Regions from separate parts of the Homo sapiens genome. Here region 1 is linked to region 2. A link means that fine-mapping ties the variant in region 2 to the expression of a gene that starts in the linked region. Tissue or cell type: lung. Region 2 holds a variant in brackets; the other region holds the start of a gene. All regions are shown on one strand. Distances are from middle to middle.

What was found. PIP is the estimated chance that this variant, and not a neighbour inherited with it, causes the effect.
Region 1: KIAA1549 starts here. The variant in region 2 is fine-mapped to the expression of KIAA1549 in lung (TOPMed, PIP above 0.99).

Annotation. Positions count from the first base shown.
Region 1 is chr7:138,977,514-138,985,618 of GRCh38, reverse strand. KIAA1549 reads left to right here and starts at 4,230. Exons shown (of 20, transcript NM_001164665.2): 1 at 4,230-4,536. The coding sequence starts at 4,350. RefSeq lists enhancers at 3,453-3,802, 4,425-5,311 and silencers at 3,783-3,912, 3,933-4,312, 4,353-4,482, 5,322-5,616.
Region 2 is chr7:138,906,813-138,914,917 of GRCh38, reverse strand. KIAA1549 reads left to right here. Exons shown (of 20, transcript NM_001164665.2): 3 at 2,458-2,546; 4 at 3,595-3,772; 5 at 5,797-5,927; 6 at 7,816-7,999. Among named protein-coding and RNA genes, the nearest start is that of KIAA1549, 71 kb to the left of the region's middle. The variant C/T (reference allele first, on the strand shown) is at 3,663.

The DNA.
Region 1 (8,105 bases), 71 kb before region 2:
CTCGGGTGGCTGGGACTACAGGTGCACGCCACCATGCCTAGCTAATGTTTTGGATTTCTTCATAGAGATGGGAGTCTCACCATGTCGCCCAGGCTGGTCTCAAACTCCTGGGCTCAAGCAATCCACCTGCCTCAGCCTCCCAAAGTGCTAGAATTACAGACGTGAGCCACTGTGCCCGGCCTAATTAATCTTACTGATCATTTAGCACATGACTCTACGGGGCGCTTACTTAGTAGGGACTCAGTAAATATTTTTTGAATGTTTATTCTGGCTACTTCTCCACTTTGCACAGTTGTTCCCTCTGCCTGACACCCTCTTCCCCAGCTATCCCCATGGCCCAATGTCACCTTAGTAGGGTGATCATCCCTGACTATTCTATTTAACACAGTAACACTGACCCTTCCCTCACTCCTTTTCCCTCTTTGTTATTCTGCAAATTGTTGTCATCAGCCGAAGGCTCACTTACTGATTGCCTGTCTCCTCTCACTAGAACATAAGTTCCACGAGGAAGGGCCTTTGTTTTGTTCACCGTTATACCTCCAGTGCCCACTGCACTGCCTGGCATATGGTACATGCTCAAAAAATATTCATTGAATTTAATGAATGACCTTTGTGAACATTCATCTTATTTTGTATAATTCTCTTAAGAACCGAACCCACAGCTAAGCAAGGTAGGCATGTGAAGCCCATCATCAGATAAGAACATTTGAGGTTTGAGAGTAGGGTGAAGCATTTTGTTCAAGTTCATAAACTTTTCTGTGACAGAGCAGAACGCAGAACTCAGCTGTCCTGATTCCTATTCTAGGACTCTCACACTACCCTCTACCGACTTCCAGCCATCCTCTAACTTCAGTCCCTCTGTCCCATCCTTATCCAGACCCTAAGAATTGAGGGGCCCAGGTCAAGAGTGCAAATAGGGGCTCACGCAGCCCATTTCACATTTGGCCATTTTGGCCATTTCACATCGATGACCAGATTTTCATCAGCAAGTTACATGCCAAGCAAGCAAACTATTAAATATGTCTGTTCTACCTTAACAAACGTATGTCTTCAGAATGGTTAGGCTGGTTCACAGGCAGGATTCGCAGACTTCCTGCAGTTGTGAGCAGAACATCGCAGCCAGGTTGCCATGTGAATATGGGCCATGCCCGATCTTCTCTTCCCATCCCTGGTCCTCTGCTTCATTCCTATAGGTTTCATGTGCGCATCTTTAGAGATGCCTCCTGCGTAAGTTTTGCCACTCCCTAGCAAACAACTACCCCGTGGGACCAGACACACCCTTGGTGCAGCCTTGGGAGAATGGACTTGAGGAAGAGGCCACATAGGCCTGAAGATGAGCCTGGGGTGAAATGGGCAGGATTCTGGGGTCCTGGGCACCTGAGCATGGGAAGATGGGCTGCTGGTGAGGGTGCTTCCTGGGCTTCACAGACTCTGTCCTGAGGAGAGAGGTGCAGTTTGAGAAGGCCAGAGTGGGGCCCGCTTCGTCTAGGTCTAAGGATAGTACTGAGCCTACCTCTCCCTGTCTCCAAACCAGATTGTAAGCCTATCGAGGACCCAGGTTAATTTTCCCCCTCCCCTGGAGGGTGTGTGGTTTAACTGGAGACGACAATTCCAGTTGGAGTTGAGCCTTATGGAAATAAACTAACCTCTCTGGCTTGTTTCTTTATCTATGAGAATTGGATGAGATGATCTCTAAAATCGATTTTAAAATCTTACACACACACACACATTTGCACACACTCCCCTACCTCCAAGGACCACTCATCCCCTCTGAGTCTGCAGAGTAACACCACCTACCAGCTGGACTGTCAGAGCCTGGTAGACATTTTCCCAGACATGGAGGCAGAATGCCTTAAATCCTAACAGAGGTAAGATTTTGTTTTATGCCTTCAGAGCTGGGAGACTAAGGGACCCTAGGGACCTCACTTTCCACGGACACTTTGGTGTCCATGAGTCATTTCTAGTATCTCAGGGTTCCAATTTTTATTTTTACTTCCAGCTGATCAATCTCTTAATGGCAGGGCAAACACTATTGTCTTTGAGTTTGCAGAGAATGGAGAAGGAGACTCCTTTCTTTTTTCTTTTCCTTTTTTTTTTTTTTTTTTTTTTGAGATGGAGTCTTGCTGTGGCACCCAGGCTGGAGTGCAGTGGCGTGATCTTGGTTTACTGTAACCTCCGCCTCCTGGGTTCAAGTGATCCTCCTGCCTCAGCCTCCTGAGTAGCTGGGATTACAAGCACGTGCCACCATGCCTGGGTAAATTTTTCTGTGTTTTTATTAGAGACGGGGTTTGCCATGTTGGCCAGGCTGGTCTTGAACTCCTGACCTCAGGTGATCTGCCTGCCTTGGCCTCCCAAAGTGCTGGGATTATAGGCGTGAGCCACCGCGCATGGCCGAGGGAGGCTTTTTTCTCTGACACCAACGGGTCTAGTGTAGATGGCAGCTTGCAGGAGGCTGAGGCCAAATCTGAAGATGGAACCTCTTCACGGGCGGAATGCATGCTCTGGCTCAAACCAACGATTGTCTACTGAGGGCTTACTGGGGCTATGAGAAATCCTAAGCAGGATAGCACCATATTTGAATTTCATATTAATTTATTGGAGGTGGGGTGGGGGCTGTGTGTGCAAAGCATAAATTCATAAAAGATAAAACAACACAACAGGACAAGACCATTCAAGAGTTGCACGAAGGCAGTGGTTTGTGGTCAAATGTGCTGTTATAGAGAGTTCAGAGAATAAAGATAAGTGTGTGAATAAGAGGTCCCAGATCTATGGCCATGGTGTCCTGGGACCAGACATATCTGGGCAGTTTCTCTTAGGTACTTACCTGGGTGTGCACGCAGAACCCTCTTTGGGAGACAGGAGCAGTTACTGTAATAAACATAGGGGCTGTATGATGGGGGGTTACAATAACGTGTAAAAACACCAGGAACATCAACAAAAGCTTTTTTTAACCTTTATTCTCATTTTCCTTGAAACTACCAGGTTTCAAGTACCCACCTGTAAGGACCAGGTGTGTACCTACAGAAGAGTGCCCCTGTCCTATTCTTAGGAAGAACTATTCGCCAAGGGCAAGGAGTCCAGAAGAGTTGGAGCTGCAAGGCTGGGCAGCCCCTTCAAGGGCTGGGCCTGGCAGGGGAACCCGACTGAATAGCCGCGAGGATCCCTCTGCCAGTGTAATGATTCACCTTTTCCGCTGTCTGCCATAGTTTTTCTGCACGAGATAGTGTCCCCCACACACACCGTTAATATCTGCTTGATGCAACAATGCCAGTGGGATGCAACGATTCAAAACTTCCAATTCCTCCTCCCTAGACCCTGAAGCCACGGGGCGTCTTCAGAGTGACGTGCCTGGCACACAGTAGGTACTTGACAGATGTCAACTCCCTTCTTCCCGTTCCTCATTCCCCCCGCGGACTCCAACCCTCAAACGCTCTCTGGGCATTCTCTCCACCTCTCAGGAGCGCCACTTTCCCTAAAACGGCCTGGCCTTGCGGGTCTCCCCAGCTCCACGCCCATTCGCTTCAGCAGCCGCCTGCTCAAGGCCTGCTAAGTGCAGGGTCCCGCGGGCCTCCCAGGCCCTGAGCGCAGGGTCGCTTCCCGAAGACCCGCAGAGGTGGCCGCACCTTCTTAAGGCAGGAAGGCGGGGGAGAGCTGCGTGCGCTCTGCTCGCCCCTGCCTTGCACGCTGAGCTCTAGCGCAGGAGCCCGACTTTGTCTGGCTTTGTCCCCTCCGCGGCCCCGAGGCTGTCCTGAGAGCGCGGCGCCCCACACACCTGCTGCCCGCAAGGAGTCGGCGGGAGAGGAGGAGCGAGGGAGGCGAGAGGACCCCTCCCCCGGCTTGCCGGCCTACCCTGATCCGGGCGCCCCGGGGAACGCGCGGCGGGACCCGGGGTTGGGTGCGGGTCGGGGCGGCACCGCCCGGCCCAGGCCCCCCGAGCCCCTCGCGCTCCCTCCGGAAGGCGGGTCCTGGGGGAGGGCTGGGCCGCGCCGCCTCGCCGCCCTTGCCGCCTCTGCCGCGCCGAGCCCCGCGCACGCTGCCCCGGCCGCCCCGCAGGCAGGCAGGCAGGCAGGCAGGCAGGCGTCCGGCCGGCCGGGAGGGGGTGCTCGCCGTCCCGCGCCCGGGCCCGCGCGTTGCCGGGCAGCGGCTCCGAGGCTCCGAAGGGGGCGGAGCGGCAAGGCGGGCGTGCGGCTGGCGCCCCTGTCCTCGGTTCCGGCCCGGCCCGCCCCCGCCTCTCCGGCCTCCCTCCGCGCCGGTGCGCGGCGCCCCGTCCCAGCCGCAGCCGCAGCGGCCGCCCCTCCCGGACCCGAGAGCCGCTGAGCCGCGAGGCCGGGCCGGGGCGCCGGCCGGGAATGCCGGGGGCGCGGCGCCGACGCCGAGGCGCGGCCATGGAGGGGAAGCCCCGCGCCGGGGTCGCGCTGGCCCCGGGGCCGAGCGGCCGACGGCCTTCCGCCCGCTGCGCCCGCCGCCGCCGCCCGGGGCTGCTGCTTCCTGGCCTCTGGCTGCTGCTGCTGGCCCGGCCGGCCTCGTGCGCCCCAGGTAAGCTCCGCCGAGACCCTCGGAACGCGGCCGCGACCCCGCCTGCCTTTATCGCTGCTGTTTTCAAAACCCCGGCTTTCCCCGCCCATCCTCTTTTATTCTCCAGCTCCCTCGCCGTCCTTTCTGGAAGATGCTTTGCCATTCTTCTGGGGCCCAACAAATAAAGGCACGGGGGAAATAAATAATTAAAACGAACAAGCGAGCGGCTTCTGGCCGGTCTTGCTAAGGGGTCTGCAAAGCTGTTCTCTTGTCCATGGAACCCGAAGCGGGTCTGGTGGCTTCATCTCAGAATGTGCCTGGTTTTTCCTGCAGAATGCAGGCACCGGCGTGCTTTTTTGTCAAGGCTGTATGATGTGGCATATCGAATGTTTTGAGATACTTTATTGTCGGGGCGAAGAGGTGGATTCGAGGTGTGCTTTAAAAGAGTATTGCATTACCGGGACAAGCCCAGCGTCCCCCAGATGCGGGCAGGCCGGCCGTGTCCCCCCGTACAGCAGGACACAAAGAACATTCAAAGAAAACCTCTTGGAAAGCGCCCTGGCCACGGATCTTTCCAGGGAAATAGCTATTGGTATTACTTCTGCAAGGCATTATTAGTACAATGGAGTGTGAAAATATTTTGATTCTTAAGTGTCTGGGCATGAAAGGAGTAAGGGCTGTTTTTATAACAGATGCAATTTAGTGACTGTTCATCAGTATGGAATGAAGAGGCATGATTTATGAAGAAGCATAAGGGTTTTGTTGTGGAAGAAATGATTTAATTCCTATTGCTTCTCCAAAATGTTTATTTGTCCACCCTGAGCCTGTACACAGGATGGTCTGGAAACCGTCTCTGAGCTGACACTGCAGGCCAGCGATTGCCCCTGCACAGGCACTTGACCACTTTGAGGCGGAAAAGGAAAGGTGGAAGGAGCAGCTAGGGGTGGAGAGCTGCTGCACACAGAACAAAAACCAGAAAGCCGTGAACGCTGCTCCGAATCCTCCTTTCTCGTGGGAGCAGGGCCAAAGGGCTACTCAGTGGCTGGGAGGAATTGGAACACATTTGAAGGTGTCCCTTGGACCTGTGAGAATTATAACCAGTGCCCTAGAGGGGATGGTACAATAGAAGCACAGGGAGGACTTCAGGGATCATGGAACAGGTCCACTCTGCTTACCAAAGAGGAAACTAAGGCAGAGAAGTGCCTTGCTCAAGGTCACAGTCATCACTTTCCCTGCCTCCCACCCCCGCTCTTGGCCCATAGACATATCCACACCTGAAGCCTCTGCAGAGATTTCCCATAGCTGGGTGGAACCAGGGTTGGGGTGACAGAATGAGTCTCTTTTAGGCAGTATACAGCTAGTGCAAACACCTTACTCTAACCTAGGACCTCCCGTCTCAGTCCTGCTCCTGCGAGTTCCAGCCCTGTGTGTCCAGAGGAGAAGAGATCATTGTCAAGGGTCTCTTGGCTTTAGTCAACAAAGAGAGCCCATCTGATACTCGTGGATTCATCTGTCATAAGACACAGCAGATAAATGGTTTCCATCTCCTGAGTGCTTTTTGTGTGCCAGATGTTGAATTTTATATACACGATCCAATCACGTTGTGAGTTAGGCATAGTTATCCCCATTTTACAGATGAGGAAACTAAGGCTTTGAGTTTAGGTTGGTTTGGCTTCAGACTCTATGACATGCTTCCTTTCTGTGCCTGATGGCTTCCCCATATGAATGTGGCCATCTGGGTGTACTGCAGAGGTTGTGGAGAATATAAGTGCTTCTGGTAACTTTAAAATAAATAGTGAAGCTGTTTGCACTGCCCATCCCTAACCTTCTCTTCTTTGGAAGTCCTTTCCTGCTTCCCCTCTACCCCCAATACAAATATTCAACCTGGAGACATGAAATTAATAATATTTCCATTCTAGACCTGACATCATGGAAAGAGACTTCATCCTTTCACTGGTTTGTATATTGGCTTCAGCCGCTGCCAGGCTCATAGACTAGGAACTAAGAAGTGGAGGGCACAGCCCCTGTGCTCCAGGATCCAGCTGGAAACACAGAGCAGTGAAGGAAGTACAAACCCTTGCACAGACCATTCCCGGACAGGAAAGGCAGGATTCCTTATGGATGACCTGCTGGAGGTGACCCCATCTACTTGAAGACTGTGAGGAACGATCTTGGTGGAGGGTGGCTTCCTGATGTAGCTAGGGTGTGTGTAGGGTGCCTGGGCGGTGCTGTTGATCCTGGGAAGAGGGTGCGTTGCAGTTGCTTGGGCTGCCCTCCCAGTCCTGAGTGTGGTATTTTCACCAGGAGATTTGGAATGTAGGAGAGCTTTGCTGAACACTGCTGTGGTGGTTGGTTCTCTTTCTAAGGAATAAGCAGTGGTAGTCAGAAAATGGCATGGCTTAGACCTGTTTTGGACTTCCTATGTGAGGCAGCATTCCCTTCCGTGGCTGTCTGAAAGCTATCTCCTCCTTCAGCTGGCTTCTCTTGTTAACTTTTGTTCAATAGAGTCCACCTTCCAGGTGGTCCCCTTATTACAGTCTTTGGTTAAATCTCTATGTTAAATCGATTTCTTGTCTATTTGTATTTCATTCAGCATTTTGAGTGTGTTTTTTTAAAAAAAAAATTTACAAGTTTGGTCTTAACCATTGACTGTTGTGGAAACAACTTGTAATGCTTTGGACTTACTTTTGAATGCATTGCTCTTAAGTGATTAGCCATCCACAGTATAAAAACAAAGAATCATGCCCAGTTTCTTCACCTTATTCAGAGATAAGTTTTTAAAAAGTAATAGTTATTATGAAATAGATTGCTTTGTAGGGAATTTGGAAATTACTGAAAGGTACAGAAACCAGTCACCCATAATCTCACAGCCTGTAGGTAACACTAAGTAATTTTATCGTTTTTTTGTTGTTAACATTAAAAAAAGAATTATATGCACAATTGTATTTACTACCATTTCCACTCTACATTTAACTTAAGCATTTTTCCATTCATTAAGTCTTATTTGAAAACTATTTTCTATCCTAATGATTTATTCTTTTATTTCCATTTTTTGGGTTGCTGTAAGTAATGCTGATGAATAGCTACATAGAGAAGGCTCTGCTGGCCATGCGCGCTGGCTCACGCCTGTAATCCCAGCACTTTGGGAAGCCGAGGTGGGCGGATCACCTGAGGTCAGGAGTTTGAGACCATCCTGGCCAACATGGTGAAACCCCGTCTCTACTAAAAATACAGAGATTAGCTGGGTGTGGTGGCATGTGCCTGTAATCCCAGCTACTTGGGAGGCTGAGGCAGGAGAATTGCTCGAACCAGGGAGGCAGAGGTTGCAGTGAGCCGAGATGGCGCCATTGTACTCCAGCCTGGACGACAGAGCAAGACTCCGTCTCAAAAAAAAAAGGCTTTGTGCATGTTTCTTTCCGTGTGTGTGTGTGTGTGTGTGTGTGTGTGTTTTCTTGAGTATACATTTGTGGAAGGGGTATTAGAGTGTGATTAAAATGTAAGGCCCACCAGGCTGGATTTCTGCATCTTTTGTTCAAAATGCTGGGCCCCTAGTAGGTACTCAGTATGTGATTTTTGAATGAAGCAATTTT
Region 2 (8,105 bases):
TTAAAGAGTCACTGAAAGCTTCTTTAGGAGTCCTCATAGCTGGATTTAACTTTCATATGTGGTGTACACTTAATGACATTTGGTGCCTGTATTAGGTATCCATGTATTTTTAACAGCTCTTTGGAGTAAAATTCAGCCATTGTTAAGTACACTTGAACAGTTTTTGTAAATGTCCAGAGTTGTGTGTGAGTGTCCATGCTGTTAAATTGTGTCTTTTAGCGGAGATAAGTGCCATTTTTGTTCCTGGTGATACCTTTGACCCAGAGGAAGTATCGGCTCATTTCTTACCTTTGCTTAGGTTGGACCTTGCTGTCCTTTTCATGGTTGTCCGTTAGTGAGAGAGTGTGGTGAGGGGGTTGAGGTGACTCCGCGTACCCCTGAAAGGATTCTTCCTGTGTGCTCTGTGATGATGAAGCGGAGCCACTCTGGGTGCTGGGGGTCTGCGATGGCGGAGGAAGCACTTGCCTGCACGCGCCCTGGGAGGCATGAGCCGCGCTTCCACCCAGGGCCTTTCTGACCCTGTGCTGCCTCTGGAAGTCTCTGTCACCTCTCTTCTCTTAGCTCTGGGAAACATTCATTTAGGAAAAGATCTGTAAGATATTTGTTTGCTGATGATCCCTTTTCCCAAAGACTGGTGTCCTCATATCCTAATGTTGCAGTTTTATAGCTTTCTCAGATTCTCTGGAGAAAGTGGAGGTCATGGTGGTGGCTGTGGGGACTTTGCAGAGTGGCATTTAGACCGATGATGTCTTTAGCTGTGTGGGGCTGCTTACAATGTGTTCTTCCTGCTTTCCTATTTAGGGATTTTCTGTTTCTGACTTCCCATTCTGCCTCTGTTTCCCCCGAGTTTAGCTCTTGCCTCCCTCCCTCCCTCCCTGCCTTCCTCCCTTCCTTTCTTCCTTCCTTCCTTCTTTCCTTCTCCCTCCTCTCCCTCCCTCCTCCTTTTCTGTCCCCTCCTCCTTCCTGTCTCCCTCCTCCCTCCTGTCTCCCTCTTTCCTCATTTCTCCCTCCCTCTTCATTTCCTTCCTTAAATAAGGCATCTTTCCTTCTTGCCACTCTTCCCCCTTTCCTTCCTCCTCATTTTATCTTTCCCTTTCAGATCTATAGCATAGTCCAACCCACTTGGAGCCTATGTGGGCCATGCGGAGTTGGCTGCTGGTGTGACTCAGCAAGGTGGTTGGGGCTGTGGATTTGTTCCAGTGGTCTCATAAACTAATAAAGGAGCCTCCACTCACCTTTAAAAAAACTTCAGATCACTGATTCCTAGAAAAAAACAATCAAATATAAATTAAACATTTTTGTTTTAAAGAATGAAGAATACAGAGTGATTCTGTCTCTACTTTAAAAAATTAAAATCAGGAAATGGAAAACAATGATAATATCAAGTGTATTCTAATTCTGCATTATGGGAAGTTGATGGAAGAGGAGAGAAAAAATAGGAAAAAGAAGAACACGCTTACTAAATACTGAGAGACAGGCTTACTTATTAGTATAGATTTTTAAATGGAACTTTTAAAATATGAAAACAGTCAAACAGAACTAGGCTTTGGTTATGAGAAATATTTTATTTCCTACATAAAATTTTAATATGTGGGAATTGTGGAATTCGTTTTTCCCCATGATTAGTGGTAAAAACTCTTCACCTTTGCCTTGAAACATTGGGGTAGGAGACCTCATTTTACAGAGGAAGATGTCATCTGGTTTTGTTGAGTAACATCTTAAGGCCTTTAAAAATGTTACTTCTGGCTGGGTGCGGTGGCTCACGTCTATAATCCCAGCACTTTGGGAGGCTGAGGCAGGTGGGTCACAAGGTTAGGAGATCAAGACCATCCTGGCTAACACGGTGAAACCCCATCTCTACTAAAAGTACAAAAAATTAGCCGGGCGTGGTGGCAGGCACCTGTAGTCCCAGCTACTCAGGAGGCTGAGGCAGGAGAATGGTGTGAACCCGGGAGGCGGAGCTTACAGTGAGCCAAGATTGCGCCACTGCACTCCAGCCTGGGCGACAGAGCGGGTCTCAAAAAGAAAAGAAAAGAAAAATGTTCCTTCTGAGAGCTTTTAAAGCCTCATGTTTTGTTGTCAGGGACATAGCCGAGAGACAGCCTGGAATTTGTCCAGGTGAAAATGAGAACTGGAAGCTCCTTGTCCCCTGGCTGGGTCATCACTGCTGATTCCTGATCTAACCTATCTGGGGCAAAGAGGGTTTTCTTAGTGTGTTGAGCTGATGCTATGCAGAGTTGACCTGGTGTCTTCAAGGTCCCCACTGCTGTTCTTCTCCAGGTAGTTAGCAGCAACTAGATCCTTAACCCCTGTTCTGTCTTGGTCTGGCCTTTATTTTACAAAAAGACTTTTGGAACTGCTAACACATTTTGGCACAGTGCTGGGGTCCAGAAGTCTGGTGTGTTTGTTATTCATAATGACATGAAAAGGCATTTGGTGGTTTGCTTTCATTTGCAGTGCTGGCCAGAAGAGCTGTGCAGGAGTACATCATTACAGCAATCAAAGAAGTACTGAGGATTCACTTCAACCGTGCAGTGGAACTGAAGGTGAGTCCTGGTGGCTCAGGAGTGTGATGTCTGGTGAGACTGGGGCTGATGTGAGAGCCCCAGGTTAGAGGCAGGTGATTATGGCCATGGAATCATTCTATTTCATCTCTTCCCTCTTGTCTGTTCCTGGTTAAGTCCTGCTCATCCTCTGGATCTCCATTCCACCGTCACTGCATCGAGGAGGTCTTTCCTGATCCCACATGAGGTCAGGGTTAGTCCTTTAGGGGATGTGTTGGCAGAGTTGGAACAAAGGGCTCTCAGACCAGAGGCAGCAGTCTGGGGTGACAGCCTTCGTGATTTTACTTCCCTTGATTCACATGAAAGGACTTGGATTCGTGTTTAAATTAGACGTTAGAGTGAGTACAGGTGCATCTTTCTGGACATTTGGTAGGATAGAGATGGAGATCCAAATCTTTTAGACTGAATGATCCTAGAAAGCCACAGTCCATCTAGAGCAGAGCCATCCGGAACCAGAACCGCGCCCCACGCATGGCGATACAGCAGTGAAATGGGGCTCGTCCAAACGGAGATGGGCTGTGGGTGGAAAATACATACCAGACTTGAAAAATGCAGTGAAAAAAGGAGGGTAGAATATCTCATTAATAGTGTTTTGTATTGACTTCATGTTGAAATGATATTTTAGATATATTAAATAAAATGTATTTAAAATTAATTTCACCTGTTCTTATGTTTTTTAATGTGGCCACTAGAAATTTTTAAATTGCATATTTATTTTGGACAGTGCTGCTCAATAGGATAAGTACTCTTGTCTATGTGTTTTAAATACAACAAACAGCTTGAATGCCCTATAACTCATTATTCAGTTCATATTTCTGACTGTTCTTTCTTGCTGCTCTTATAATTTTGTGTTGTTTTTGCAAAGGTTGGCAGAGAGTAAAAGCAGTAACTAAAATAAAATTTTGATTATCCGTGATGCACTACCCCTTCATTCAAAACTACCAGTTTTTTTAGTTTATAATTTTTTATTTTTCTGTGTAACACAACTTCCTTTAAGTTTGAATTGTCTTTGTATTTCTTATTTCCCTAGGTTTACGAACTATTTACTGACTTCACTTTTCTGGTAACATCCGGTCCTTTCGTTTACACGGCAATATC[C/T]GTCATAAATGTGCTTATAAACAGTAAGCTTGTCCGTGACCAGACTCCTTTAATCCTGTCTGTGAAACCTTCTTTCCTTGTGCCAGAGTCCAGGTTCCAAGTTCAAACAGGTGAGACAGCTCAGCATAGTTGTTTTTATTTGTAAAAAGAATTTCATTTTTTTTTTATCTTTCTAAAATATTGGAAATCATTTTTAGAATTTATTATTATGATGATGATTTTTAGAGACAGGATCTCAGTCTGTTGCCCAGGCTGGAATGCAGTGGTGTGATTATAGCTCACTGTAGCCTTGAACCCCTGAGCTCGAACAATCCTCCTGCCTCAGCCTCCTGAGTAGTTAGGACTAAAAGTGTATACCACCATGCGTGGCTAATTTTTTTTTTAATTTTTTTTTAGGCCAGGTATGGTGGCTCACACCTGTAGTCCCACCAGGTGGGAGCTGAGGCAGAGGAGGTTGGGAGGCTGAGGCAGATGGATCACTTGAGTTCATGAGTTTGAGACCAGCCAGGGCAGCATGATGAAACCCTGTCTCTACAAAAAAAAAAAAAAAAAAAATTAGACCAAGTGCGATGGCTCATGCCTGTAATCTCAGCACTTTGAGAGGCTGAGGCGAGCAGATCACTTGAGCTCTGGAGTTTGAGATGAGCCTGGGCAACATGGCGAAACCTCATCTCTACTAAAAATACAAAAATTAGCCAGATATGGTGGCATACGCCTGTAATCCCAGTGACTTGGGTGGCTGGGGCAGGAGAATCACTTGAACCCAGGAGGTGGAGACTGCAGTGAGACGAGATCGTGCCACTGCACTCCAGCTTGGACAACAGAGTGAGACCCTATCTCAAAAAAAAAAAAAAAAAAGAATTTAAGAAACATTATGTTTTGTAGAGATGGGGTCTTCCTAAGTTGCCCAGACTGGTGTTGAACTCCTGGGCTCAAGCGATCCTCCTGTCTTGGCCTCCCAAAGTGCTGGGATTACGGGTGTGAGCTACCACACCTGACCTTATTATTTAACTTTTAAAAGTGTTTATAATTATGGGAAATTTCAAGCATGTACAAAAGTACGTAGAATAGTTTAACAGACCACTGTGTACTCATATGTCTTCAACCACTTTTCCGTTCCTAGCCAGTCTTGTTATAGCCACACCCCCATCTACTATCTACTTCCCCTCCTCTTGTACTATTTTAAAGTAAATCTCAGGCATCGTATCATCTCGCCCACACATATTTCAGCCTATATAGCCTCTAAAAGATAAAGACTTTAAACATGTATATGAAGTTAACAGTGATTTCTTTTCTTTTCTTTTTTTTGGAGCTGGAGTCTTGCTTTGTTGCTCAGGCTAGAGTGCAATGGCGCGATCTCTGCTCACTGCAACCTTTGCCTCCCGGGCTCAGGCAATTCTCTTGCCTGAGCCTCCTGAGTGGCTGGGATTACAAGCACCCACCACCATGTCCGGCTAATTTTTGTATTTTTAGTAGAGATGGGGTTTCACCATGTTGGCCAGGCTGGTTTCGAACTCCTGATCTCAAATGATCTGCCCGCCTCAGCCTCCCAAAGTGCTGGAATTACAGGCGTGAGCCGCTGTACCTGGCTGTTAACAGTAATTTCTAAATATCATATTTAACTTTTCATTGTGGACATGTTCAAACATTTACAAAAGTAGAGAGAGTACTAAGTCTACATATACCCATGGTTAAGCTTAAAAAAAATTTATCAACATCACCAATTTTGTTTCATCTATCCCCTGTGAACGTTTTTGTGGACACTAGAGTGTTTTCAAGCAATGCCAGGTATCATGTCATTTCACCCATAAATATTCAAGAATTCATCTACAATGAATTTATATATGTTTGAAATGTTTCCATCCATTGTGTCTTTTGATACTCAAATTCTTATCTTAGATATTTTTCATTTTAAAATGATACCAGTCACCGTCACATTGCATGTCTTCATTTACTGCAAAGTTACCTTTTACATTTCCGTGAGAAAATACGTAGAAATGTTACATCACAGTACTTAATCCCATACTATGGATGAATTGGTTGATTTAGATACGATGTTTCTCTCTCTTGATTCCTTAATACTTCAGAAGCACAAACACCTCATTTATGGGACTTTGATTGCTTTTCTTTTCAGTACTTCAGTTTGTGCCTCCGAGTGTGGATACTGGCTTCTGCAACTTCACCCAGCGCATTGAGAAAGGCCTAATGACAGCTCTCTTTGAAGTGAGAAAACACCACCAGGGAACGTATAACCTCACGGTGCAGGTGAGAATATCACTGAATGCAGAGCAGAAGGCTTTAGCCCTTGAAGGGGAAATTGTTCCACATTGTTTAAGATGTGCTTAACTCTTATTCCCTCCAGTGGCGGAAACCCAGTTTATGTGAGTCGGGATTGATCTATTCCTGTGGCGTAAGGTCGGCATAGCGTGCACAGGCTGAGCATCTTTGAGGGTTGCAGAGTAGCTGATACCCAGGGAGCTCAGATATGGTGAGCTGAAGAAACATGACCATATTCAGGAAATTCAAGAATTACCTAGAAAGGAATGGTATCAACCTAAATATCCAATGGGGGAATGCCTACCCATACTGTTGTTTCCATATAGCTACTAAGAACGGGTGTTGTACGTATCATATGGAAACTGCTGATGTTTTTATGTTTCTTTGATTTTTTTCCCTCTACATTCTTTCCTCTCTCTTTCCAAAATGGATGTTAAAATAGATTTTGGTGCTCCTGGATCCACTTTCCATGTTTCTTATTTTTTCCTCATATTTTCCATCTCTTTATTCTCTGTTTTTACAGATTTACTAAATGTCGTCCTCCAAGTCATGAATTTAGTCCTTAGCTGTGTCCATTATGTTATGCAATCCCTCTACTGAATTTTTAAGCTTTTTGTTCATTGTTCTTTGCTCCATTTTCATTGTAGGCTTTCCTGCGATGATGCAGTGTCACCTTAAAAGTCTCTGAGGACGTTAATTAGAATTGTTAAAATGCGTCTTCTGTTTCCTAAGTCATTCCTGTTTTCTCTGCAGTCCTTGCTCTGCATGTTGATCTCGGTGCTTTGCTTTCGTGCTGTTAGTTTCTGTAAATCTGGAGACTGTTGGTTTGTTGTTAGGAATGAAGAACCAAGTTGTTCATTTTAGTAGCTGGCACAGCTTTCCCCTTGAGCTGTGGGGATCTCTTTCTACGTCAGCTCCATCTCCTGGTGGGAAAATTCGTCGGAGCGCTGGGTCTGGGGCAGAATATGTCAGCGTGGGCTTCTCTCTGGGTGCAGTGTGTGGTCAGAGACAAGCAGACAGGGAACACCCTCCTTCCAGCATCTAGATAAAGAGGTTCTTCCTAGGGGATGGGGCACTTTAGTGTGTGTCTCAGGGCAGAGCTAGCTGCGTTTTCATTCATTTTCTTTCCTTCTTCGGTGTGCACAGGAGTTATCTTAGCCTCTGCCCACCTTCTTGGTTAGGGCCCAGACCCACCATAGTCCTCTTAGGCAGGAGTTTGTTTTCCTCAGGAGGCAGTCTTGTTCTGGGTGAGGGCCTGGCTGCTGCTAGCACCTCTGTTGGCCTGGGTGTGGCAGTTAGGAAGGACGGAGGAGGAAGGCAATACACTCAGCTCTTTGGCACAGCCTTGTAATTAATTATACTGATTACCACTGTGTAGCCTGCTCTTGGTCTCATTCCTGCTGATCTCTGCCACAGAGCCCCTCCTGGTCCTCTTGGAGAGCGTGGCCCTTGGCTCTGCTGCAGCCCATGCTTGTGTATGTTTTGGATTCTGGCTTTCTCTGTTCTGGTTTATATCAATCCAATCCCATCCTTTCTTCATCCCCCAGAGGTTTGACGGAATCTCTAGTTTTCTTCCATTCTCAGTGCTGTTGTGGATTTATTCCCCTGTGTTCAGCTTATTGTTATTTCAGTGGCATTTGGGGTGGGAGGAGCTGTACATGTGCTCAGTTCATCACTTAATGTAAGAAACATTTTCCATAAACTGAGCAGTTAAACTCTTACAAAAGGGAACCAGGTTAGAAAGCCAGTTACGTTTCCTTTAAAAACTTTACCTCCTTTAAAAAAATCGGTGAGAGGACCTGTGAGAGAGAAATCATGGTTAAGCTTTCAGCAGAATGTTTTATTATAGAAGCTTATTCTGACTTTATTCTTTCAGATCTTGAATATCACCATCAGTTCCTCAAGGGTGACTCCTCGGCGGGGCCCGGTGAATATCATCTTTGCGGTTAAAAGCACACAGGGATTTTTGAATGGGTCGGAAGTGAGCGAGCTGCTCAGAAACTTGAGTGTGGTGGAGTTCAGTTTCTATCTGGGATACCCAGTGCTGCAGATCGCAGAGCGTGAGTACAGCCCTCTTGGACATGCTGGGGAGGTGATGGCGGGCATTTTTGGTGGAAGACCTCTTCTTAAAATTTTTTTAGTTTTTTAAAAGACTTGATTTTTTAA